Linked DNA regions of Homo sapiens. The protein of the gene in region 2 interacts with the protein of the main gene of each other region in a pairwise test. Each region holds a gene or a part of one and is shown on either strand. Other genes may lie near its edges.

Region 1 (4,221 bases), on a different chromosome or scaffold from region 2:
CATTTGCAAGTTAAGATAGACAGAAGGAGCAGGGGATGGGGACGATGGTAGATTCTGTGTGTGTGTGTGTGTGTGTGTGTGTGTGTGTGTGTATACTCTGTTATTTTTACCCTCTATCAAACATTATGGGATGCTGAGATACAGAAGAGTGGATATGTCTAAAGAGTTGGCTATAGGACCATGAAAATATAGAAATATAGACTAAGAAAAATAGAAGAGGTCCAAGAAGTGTCTATAGATGCTTCAAATAGAATATAAAATGTAACTTAAAAAGAAACATCAGGAATTAAAAAATATAGTGTTGGGGACTTGTCTCTCAATCCTCATTTTGCAGGGCATCACTGGTTTTATTGTTGTTGTTTGCTTGTTTTTTGAGACAGGGTCTCACTCTGTTGCCAAGGCTAGAGTGCAGTGGTGCGATCTCAGTTCACTGCAACCTCTGCCTCCTTGGTTCAAGTGATCCTCGTGCTTCAGCCTCCAGGGTAGCTGGGATTACAGGCATGCACTGCCATGCCCAGCTAATTTTTGTATTTTCAGTAGAGAAGGGGTTTCACCATGTTGGCCAGGCTGGTCTCGAACTCTTGGCCTCAAGTGATCTGCCTGCCTTGGCCTCCGAAAGTGCTGGGAGTATAGGTGGGAACCACCATGCCCGGCCAGATATCACTCGTTTTAAAGCATCCTTTGTAGTCTCACTCAGAACATCAGTTCCGAAAATCTTTATTATCAATAGACACATGACTTTACAAAAGCTTCTAGTATATAAGGACATCTTGCCCATTCTTAATAACGTGTTGATAACAAAGACACTCATCATTTATATGATGAAGTTACATTCTAGATCCTATTCGTTTTCCATTTCTAATAGCCCCATTTTATTAATTGCAATGATTTTCAACTCCGCTATCAAAAGGAAGTCAACTGTTGCTCTGATTACAATTGGGTGTTTCAAACTATCGTCTTGATTACAAATGAATGAGTTGCATGCTGCAGTTGGAGATACTTCGCATACTTCAAAGAAAGGAGTAGAAATATGTCTGATGGTAAAATATAGAATGATAGAATTTATACATAAAAATCAAGACTATAGTTACCCTATTTTTTTTTTTAAGCTGTACACAATCTTCAGTAGTTTCCTGTCAAGTTAGGAACTTTATATGTTAGAGCCTGAACATATCTGCATATGACATTTAACTATAAAGCATTAGGACTGTTTTTAAATAAATGTAAAGGCATTGATATAAAAAGAGTACTGTTCTCTTTTTAAGTTGTTACCTTAAAAGGCCATAAAATTACTTCTGTGATGTCACAGTTCAAATATTTTTGAATGACTGACATTTTTAAAATTCTAACTCATATTATCCTGGATACCGATGCATACTAGATGAGCACCTTTCCTAGTTAGGACATTTCTGGAGTTGTTACCACCTATAATCTGTGGCTTGGTGGTAGTTGTAAAATTTGATATTTGGCTAGTAGAAAGTAGTCACTGTATATGTTAAAATAGCTATAAAAGATTCTTACCTTCAGCTCCTGAAGGATCTATTGTTCTTTGTGATTTGTTCTTTCATTTTGTACCCTAAAAGATATGAGTGTATAAAATTTGCAGAATTGCCACAAGGTCTTCTTGGCCAAAGTCACCTTTCAGAGTTGCCAAGCAAGCATCATGAGATTGGTAAAGCCAGCTCTACAGCATCTCTTGGTGGCACTAGAACACAATTTCTTAAGGAAAAAGCCAGCATTTCACCCACTGCCTGGTGTGGCAGTCAGAGCCAGGAAGGGCTTTGGTGAATAGGCCAGGACGTGCAGTGGGCCAAATGATGCCTTCTCTTAGGTCAGTGACCCAGCCTCTACAACTTCCTACAACTCCTTCCAGGACTTTCTGACTCACAGCTTGGGAAGAATTAGGAAAGAACACCTGCCAAGCTGAGCAGAACAGCTGCTTCCTGCTTACGTGTTTTTGGTGGAACATCTCATTTCTTCTTCAGGACATGTTTGGATATACACAGGGATAGAAATGCCATAGTGAAAACATCTTTATGACTGTCAAAAAAAAAAAAGCCCTAATATTCACAGAAGATGGGGTCTTGGTTTCTTTATTCCATTTTATTATTTATTAAGACTGTTAACAAAAAATAGGCTTTATTTTTCCTCTGTACTTAAAAACTATAAATTTACTTGGGTCACTAACAGTGCTCTCAGTCTGAGAGAAAATTACATAATAACAACAATAATGAACAAAGCACTTAGCATGTGCCAGGCACTGTTCTAGGTGCTTTTACATATTCAGTCATCACTTTTCACAACAGCTCTATGAGGTAAGTACTGTTATCTCCGTTTTACAGATGAGGAAACTGAAGCACAGAAAAACCAAGGTTCAGTCAGACAGCTAGTATGTGGCAGAGTCAAGATTTAAATCTAAGAAACAGGATCTGGAATCTGTACTCCTAACCATTACGCCACACTGAGATGGTTCCCAAACAGCAGGAAGAAGAAGTGTTCTTTCCCTATAGGTAACAGTTCACTCATTCTTTTGGTGCAGTAATGGACAGTCTGTACCGAACTCTCCAATATAAAACGTGAGGAATTAAAATGTATATAGAGCCTGAAAACTCACTTACTTTTATAATGGTTCCAAGCAAAGAAAATGCTTTATGGGTTCAAACATGTCAAATTTATGAACTCTTCGTTTTTTTGTGGAAACTGGCTGGCAGTCTCTATTTACAATATCTCTCCTCTATTATAAAAAACATTGCAGTGGAGCTATGTGAACATTTTTTCCCCTTTCCCTTAGAGAAAGCAAATTAAGTCAAAGGTGATACATATCCTTGGAGTTGGCTGAAAAAGAAATTGGGAGAAATATGAGAATAGCCTTGTGGAACTTGGTTTCCACAATTCTCAAATTTAACCATGAAATTAAAATTAGATACAGGGGATAGATTTTCCTGGTCATAAGCAAGTCAGGCAGTGAGCTCCAAAGAATTCACATACTCCTCCTTCTAATTCTTTTAAAATTCCAGCTTCTAAAGGACCTGAGAAATATGATCACTACTAAACTCACTCATGTATTAAATAATGATTAGGAAGAGCTAAGAGTTGACACAGAGGAAGGCCAGGAAACATGGTAAATGTGGGTAAGGGCATTAAGAAGTTTGCAGACTACACCATATCTCTAAAGCCTCATGATTTTGCTAAAGTATTGTAACTCAGGAGAGAAAGCAAGACACCCTCATGGGAATTCTTTTGAGTTTTTCATTCTTTTCCCCCTCCACTCAGTTCCATCCAGATGTGGCAGCCTCAGTAGCTAGTAGAAAAAAAATTTGGCCAGGGTCAGTGGCTCAGGCCTGTAATCTCAGCACTTTGGGAGGCCAAGGTGGGCGGATTGCTCAAGCTCACAAGTTTGAGACCAGCCTGGGCCACATGGCAAACCCTGTCTCTACAGAAAATACAAAAATTAGCCGGGCATGGTGGCACATATCTGTAGTCTCAGCTATTTGTAGGCTGAGGTGGGAGGATCACTTGAGCCTGGGAGTTTAAGGCTGCAGTAAGCCATGATTATGCCACTGCACTTCAGCCTGGGTGACAAAGGGAGACCCTGTCTCAAAAGGGGGGAAAAAAGGCCAGGCATGGTGGCTCACACCTGTAATCCCAGCACTATGGGAGGCTGAGGCGGGCGGATCACGAGGTCAGGAGATCAAGACCATCCTGGCTAACACGGTGAAACACCGTCTTTACTAAAAACATAAAAAATTAGCCAGACATTGTGGCACGCGCCCAGAGTCCCAACTTCTCAGGAGGCTGAGTCAGGAGAATCGCTCGAACCTGGGAGACAGAGGTTGCAATGAGCCAAGATCCTGCCACTGCACTCCAGCCTGGGCAACACAGTGAGACTCCATCTCAAAAAAAAAAAAAAAAAAAGGAAAAAGAAAAATTTTAACAATAATTGAGAAAGTAAACTAAATGGTCAAGCCAGAAATGTATAAAAATATGTGTATAATGTAATGTTTATTAAGCTTGCTTGAAAAACAGAATTCTTTTACTTTGAATTTCTCCATTTCAATGCATGGAAGGAATGGTCCACAGTAAAACAAAAGCAGTATTTCCAAGAATGTTAGTTGTCTCTAGCTCCGTATACATTTTCTACCGCCATATGTCTACCGCCATAACCAATGCAGAGTTGTTTAACATGAAGTTTGACCCAAACTGGACTAGGAAGGGGCAAAC
Region 2 (7,298 bases):
CTTCTCTAAACGCCATTCAATTCTCTCCTCTCTTTAATTGAATTTGGGAAACAAGGTTTGACAAAGGGATACAATATTTAAAGTCTACTAGAAGCACAAGGAAAAAATTCTCCACCAAAGCACATCGACACGTTTGTCCTCCCCACCCCTTTTTAACTGAAGAGCCCCAATTTTGATACTAGAGGAGTTATGGTCTATTGTGAACACACATCTTAGAAGTAGCCTCACATTTTCTTAGAGCTCACTTTGTCATTTTCCCCCTTTTGATACTCTGCCAAATTTAACTTCAAGAATTTATGATTTAAGACACTGTGAGAGTACTTAAATCCAAAGTTCCTGGAAAAATAGGATGTAAAAGAAAAGTTACAATGCAAACCACCCCAATGGACTCTTAGTGAGAAGCAGGTAAATCAATCATTCACTCCCTCATGTCTGCAGGCCTAGGAGGGGACTCTGAAAATAGCATCGTATTTGGAAGAAGAGGAGTGGAGAGACGTCAGGAGAAGAGAAGAGAAAAATGTATGTTTTCTAGGTCTCCAGTGGTCTTTCTTCTCTTTAGATGGTTTAACTGCAGGTGAGTTGATCTTTCTCTTCCTTTGGCGTGACGGTGTTGGGATGTGCTATGGGTAGAAGTCTCTGGGGGCTCTCAAGTCTCTTGTCTCAGTTCTTCTTGGATGGTCATCTCCAGAGCCCAGGTCCATGGCTTCTGGGTAGCTGGGAAATTCCTGAGGTAAAGGGAACTCCTCTGCTGAAGAGTGAGTCCGGTGCCCGAACACCTTTTCCTGCAGCTCAGTGATGTCATTGCGGATGTCAGCCAGCATAAGTAGCAGGAAGTCGAAAGAACCAGGGGGTCCCTGTGTACATGGGAGGAATCAAAGCTAGAATACGACAGACAGCAATGGCCTCCGGGGCTCCATGACTTGACCTGCTGCTTGCTGGCAACTACTTTCTCAATAACTCTGTGCCCCAAATGGAGCCAATGTGAGGACTGCTACAGGAGCCTGGGGGTCCTCCATATTGTTTTCTAATTCTGTCACTTCTCAGCTGAGCTTTGGTGATGTATTCACCTTTCCTCCCTCCTAACGCTTTATCAAATCCAGTAGAGGAAAGGATATAAGAATAACTCTCCTAGGTTACTTTCCAAAGCAGTCTGGAAGATGCTTATGAAGGCAGCAGAGCAGTGGTTAAGAGACTGGGGTTCTGTTGGATTTGAATCTCATCTCTGCCGCTTACTAGCTGTGTCATCTTAATTTCTTGTGGTTCAGTTTCCCCATCTGTAAAACGGGGATAATAATAGTCCCAACTTCATAGGGTTTTGTAGGATTCATAAGTGAGGATTTAAGCAAGTAAATACGTGTAAAGGGCTTTGAGCATAATACGTATTCAAAAATGTTATCTGGGCCAGGTGTGGTGGCTCACGCCTATAATCCTAGCACTTTGGGAGGCCGAGGTGGATGGATAGCTTGAGCCCAGGAGTTCAAGACCAACCTGGAAAACATGGTGAAACCCTGTCTCTACAAAAATTTAACAAAAATTTAGCCAGGTGTGGTGGTGGGCACCTGTGGACCCAGCTACTTGGGAGGCTAAGGTGGGAGGATCACTTGAGCCCAAGAGGTCGAGGCTGCAGTGAGCCAAGATTGTGCCACTGCACTCCAGCCTGGGTGACAGAGTGAGACCCTGTCTCAAAAAAAACAATGCTGTTATTTTTTAAAAGCAAAATTATTAAAATGTTTATAAGATGGCTGACTATAAGCACAAACTAAATGAAGTTGAGAGGATGTTGTAAAGACGTCAACTCCTCGTTGACTAGGAAAGGTCCAAACAAAATCTTCCTAATTTTTCTATGTATTGAGTATCCTTTATCATCATATAGTATTTACTAAGCCTTAATTTCATATAGCGCTGTGTGGGGCATGGTAAAAAAGAAATGCACAAACACGCATGTTCTGGGCTTGTCAGAAGCTTGTAGTAAAATCGTTATCATCTCCCGCAACTGCTGCTACAGCAGCGGGCACCGTGGAAGCAGAGCTTACACCGTAAAGCACTAAGAGAGGCACAGTATTTTCATATCATTTGACCCTCACAGTAGCCACTTCAGGGATGGCAGGTCAGATTCCACTATCGCCACTGCACAGTGGGGGGCAAGAATGCCCAGAGACCCTCAGTGAAGTGCCCGTGGTCAGAAAGCCAGCAGGTAGAAGAGTTGAGATGGGAACCCACGACTCCTACCTCTGTGGCCACAGCCGCTGGATTTCAGAAATGATACTTCTTCAGAAGCAGTGACGTGGTTTGAATTTTCTATGCTTTTGAATACTACTATTTCTCATTTTTAATCTCCCAGATACTATGCTTATATGCAGCTAATTTCTTCTCAGGTCCTAAACAGCCCTGCGTGGTTTTGCACTTTTTAAGAGGAGATGGCCATCTGGCCTGCTAGGGTTGCAGCAGTGGCTAAATTCTCAAGTACGCAGAGTTATGATTTAAACCCATAGATTTCCTTCCTAGACCTTTCAAATGTTTTATGATAATACTTGGAAACAGACTCATGGCATAGCAGGGTTTTGAGCTTTAGGAAAGACATTTCAAATAAAGATTAGCCATGATAAAAGAGAAAACAGCAACAGAAAACAAATTTGAAAAATAAATCCAAACTAGCAGCTAAGGGCTTCTATGACTCTCTTCCTAACCACAGAGTTCTGTTCAGGTGGGCTGAGTGGCATCAGGAAGGGGCGGGCTTTTGCTACTAGACCAACCTATAGGCTCATCAGAGCTGCATCCCTGAGAACGTTCCCCTGGGGAAGCAGGACACAGAGTGCTACTTACTGGAGACCCTCTGGGCCCAGGCGCTCCTCTCTCCCCCTAAAAACAGAAAGGCCAGGGTTAGCTTTCTAGAGCACATGGATATCACAAGAATAGTCTCTATTTATACACCCACCATAACCACTTCCCTGCACAAAACAATAAACATTTTCTATAGAAAACATATGTAAAACTGAGCTGGACTCACGGGACCACTTATTTGAACAGGACTGCTTGGGTCAAGTGTCTCTCATTCTGATTTCCCTCAAGCCCATCTATTTTCAAACCTTCTTGGCAAGAGGAATGTTCATATTTCCCAACAGCATGTGGAGTAACAAACTTTCTGAAGTAACTCACACTGACTTCTTTGTGAGGCAAAAAAGAGCAGGCAGCTCTCAGAGGGGAACCACCCTGCTTGCAAAAAGAATGGAGCATCTCCTGTTCCTGAGAAATCTCACAGAAATGGAAACACACAAAAAGCTATCCCGTAAAGCAACACTGGTTAAAGAGAAAAACACATGTGAGAATCACAACACAGAGGCTCATTTAAAATTTACAGGGGTCACTTTTCCTATGAGTGGTTGTGGTGGTTGTTTTTGTCTTTGGGGTTGGTTTTGGAATTGAAGACAATGGCTTTTCAGATTTTGTTCCCAGCTTTGGGGAAAAAGTTCTATCTGGTATCTGTGTCTCACTTCTGCTGCATGCAAAATGGGGTTGGTAAACAGTGTCTGGTGAGCTTTCCTGGATGTCAGTGCAAGAGGTAGAAAGTGAGAGACCTTCAGGCCGGGAGCGGTGCCTCACACCTGTAATACCAGCACTTTGGGAGGCTGAGACGGGCAGATCACCTGGGGTCAGGAGTTTAAGGCCAGCCTGGGTAACATGGCGAAACCCCGTCTCTACTAAAAAATCCAAAAATTAGGCCGGGTGTGGTGGCTCACGCCTGTAATCCCAGCACTTGGGGAGGCCGAGGTGGGCGGATCACGAAGTCAGGAGATGGAGACCATCCTGGCTAACACGATGAAACCCTGTCTCTACTGAAAATACAAAAAAATTAGCCAGGTGTGGTGGCGGTCGCCTGTAGTCCCAGCTACTCGGGAGGCTGAGGCAGGAGAATGGCGTGAACTCGGGAGGTGGAGCTTGCCGTGAGCTGAGATCGTGCCACTGCACTCCAGCCTGGGTGACAGAGTGAGACTCTGTCTCAAAAAGAAAAAAAAAGAAAAATCCAAAAATTAGCCGGGAGTGGTGGTGCACACCTGTGGTCCCAGCTGCTTGGGAGGCTGAGGCGGGAGAATTGGGCTTGAGCCAGAGAGGCAGAGGCTGTAATGAGCCAAGATTGTGCCATTGCACTCCAGCCTGGGTGACAGAGCAAGACCATCTCAAAAAACAAAAACAAAACAAAACAAAAAAATCGAAAGTGAGAGACCTTTAGCTTGTGAGGACCACTCATAAGGCTTACCTTAGAACCATCTCTTCCTGGTGCCCCTGGTGGACCCTGTAATACAAAAGGATCTGGTTTAACCACAGGCAAAAGCATGGGACAAAAACACATTTTCCCCCAAAAAGGAAGTGGATCTCTGATAAGATACTGACCACAGGGCCCCTCCGGCCTTGCTTAATGTGGGACAGATCAGGAGATGGTCCCATGGGTCCCATTGAGCCCCGTGGGCCGGGCTGCCCAGGAGGGCCTGGCATACCGGGGAAGCCTGGGCTTCCCTTTGGTCCTGGTGAGCCTGTAATCAAAGAACACCTCATTAGCTCACAGCACATGAGAAGGACAAAGGGCCCTGGCTAACAAGAGTCCAGGACCCCTGCAGCCATTTCTCTTTGTACTCTCTCTGCCTTTGCCTTCTGACATCTCCATCAGGCTGTCCCACAGGCATTTTAAACTTGATACGATCAAAAGCGGCTTCCCCATCTTCCTCTCTTTTCGCGGACTGCCAGTCATACATCCACTCAAGCCAAAAACTGGAGAGTCTTCCTCTATATTTCCCTGTTTCTGCAACCTCCTTTTTGAATCAGTGGCCAGCTCCTGTGCATTTTACCTCTTTAACATCTCACAGCTGTCTGCTCCCTTCTATCCACTGGATCACAGCAGAGTAGTGGCCACCACCACAGAGAAGTGGTGATCATGGCTGGAGAGCAGTACAGGTTTTAGCATCAGGGAGACTTGGGTTTGAATCTGACAAGTTGCCTGAGCCATCTGAGCTTTAGTTTCTCATCTCATCTGTAAAAGTGGGCTAATAAAAATCTTCCTTATGGAGTAGTTGCATTACATGAGATTTCAGATATATACACAGCACTTAGTATAGTACTTCACACATAGTAAGTACTAAAACATCTGCTAGGCCTTCCTTATATTTGCTTTGACTCTTGCCTCATTGCTAGTCTTTCTGCCCCGAACCAGTCTTTTCACCCCTTGCCCATTTTTGATATTTCTATAGGGATGACACATCTAAAACAAGTCTTACTATGTAACCCACCTACTTTCAACCTTCTGGTGCAAATGTCTCAAGGCACTCGGTGGGTCAGCAAACTCACTCTCTCTTGCAGGCCCCAGAGAAATATCCCTTACTTCTTAGTGAGGGGTAGGAAATGTTCTTCTGGCTAAGATTTGCCACAGGTACAAGGCATGCTGGGGGATGAGTTGGGGGATATGGGGAAGATCATCTCACCCCAAGGCCCAGAAGCATAGGTCATGCTTAGGATTGCAGCTGGAGCAGGAGAACTGAAAATGTCCCGTTGCCCCACAACTCTAGCATGGAGTAAGTAATAGCAATCTACAGTGTGGGGAGAGAACCCCTCTGTGGCACAGGTGTGTGTGTAGGGGCTGCTGAAAGCTCAGAGTATAAACACTGAGAAAAATCCACTGGTAACCTAGGCCTCCACTAAGCATAAGGTAACAGCATCCTTCCATTGGAGGAATTATTTGAAGACTGTGGAACACAAAGTAAATATAGTGACAATAAAGCCAAAACCCAGCTCAGTTATTCATTAGGTTGACTTAGCTTCCCATGGCAGTGGCCTGACAAAAGAAGAGAGTACCCATCTCCAGGAGTGATAACCATGTGCCTCAGTCTCTACTGTTTCTCTGCAAATGATGTCTGGCATTCAATCCAAAATTTTCAGACATGGAAAGAAAAGGGCTGGGCACAGTGGCTCATGCCTGTAATCCCAGCACTTTGGGAGGTTGAGGCGGGTGGATCACCTGAGGTCAGGAGTTCGAGATCAGCCTGGGCAACATGGTGAAACCCCATCTCTACTAAAAATACAAAAATTAGTCAGGTGTGGTGGTGGGTACCTGTAATCCCAGCTACTCAGGAGGCTGAAGCGGCGGTTGCAGTGAGCTGAGATTGTACCACTGCAGTCCAGCCTGGGTGACAAAGCGAGACTCCATCTCAAAAAAAAAAAAAAAATCAAAACAAAAAAACACATTGTCAAGTAATAGAACAATCAGCAGGACAAGCCTCAGAGGGGACCCAGATGTTGGAATAATGAGATATGGGCTTTAAAATAACAGCATGTGAACGGTGCTGTTGGAAAAGATAAACAGTGTGTCTGAGCAGATGAGGGATTTCAGCAGAGAGATGGAAATTAAAGGAAAAAGTCAAATGGAAATGAAAAATATAATATCATGTATGAAAACAATATAGGCTCATCAACAGACTGCTCCCAGCTGAGCAAAGAATCAGTGAACTTAAAGATAAGTCAACAGTTACTCAAAGTGAATCACAAAGAGGAAGATAAAATGAAGCATCCAAAAGAGGTGAGATAATATCGAACCATCTAACATAAGTGTAATTGGAGTCCAAGGAGAAAAAGAAAACCCTACAGTGGCTCCCCTCTGCATAGAGAATAAAGCTCTAACTCCTCAGCATAGTATCCTTGTTCATTCTTGTCTTTCTTGCCAAGCATTTTTTCCATGATTGCCTCCTTCCTAATTGCCCCATAGTCCCATCCTCCCTGAATAAACCATACCATAGCACACAATCCAGCTCACACTATTCTTTCTGTCTTGTCTCCATCACCACAGATCACCTATCTCCAAAAACATTTTAACATCTCCCCCGTCGTACCAACAACTATCATCAGACAGGCACAAAAACAGATGACTTGTTAAACTCGGTATAGTCTCAGTGCTGTGTCGATACAGGCTTCTGAAAGTTAAACTCGGTATAGTCTCAGTGCTGTGTCGATACGGGCTTCTGAAAGTAAGAATTAACTGCTTTCTTCATTGTACATGCTTGCAGTATATCTATAGTATAATGTGTGTGTTTATATGCATTCATGCACTGTACATGTATGTGTTTTCTGTTTATGTGTATCATTTTCTTCCGAGCATTCTTAACATTTAAAAATTGGGGCCAGGTGCGGTGGCTCATGCCTGTAATCCCAGCACTTTGAGAGGCTGAGGTGGGCAGATCACTTGAGGTCAGGAGTTTGAGACCAGCGTGGCCAACACAGTGAAACCCCATCTCTACTAAAAATACAAAAATTAGCTG

What was found.
Region 1: the proteins of CCBE1 (region 2) and STX11 interact in binary tests that used the Homo sapiens proteins (3 or more experiments, as listed by UniProt).

Annotation. Positions count from the first base shown.
Region 1 is NC_000006.12:144,188,420-144,192,640, reverse strand, and holds the end of STX11 (syntaxin-11), read right to left. Parts: 3' UTR 702-4,221; downstream 1-701. UniProt on the Homo sapiens protein: SNARE that acts to regulate protein transport between late endosomes and the trans-Golgi network.
Region 2 is NC_000018.10:59,435,288-59,442,585, forward strand, and holds part of CCBE1 (collagen and calcium-binding EGF domain-containing protein 1 precursor), read right to left. Parts: intron 4,530-7,298; coding exon 4,390-4,529; intron 4,292-4,389; coding exon 4,256-4,291; intron 2,860-4,255; coding exon 2,824-2,859; coding exon of another isoform or gene 2,754-2,823; intron 855-2,753; coding exon 621-854; 3' UTR 1-620. UniProt on the Homo sapiens protein: Required for lymphangioblast budding and angiogenic sprouting from venous endothelium during embryogenesis.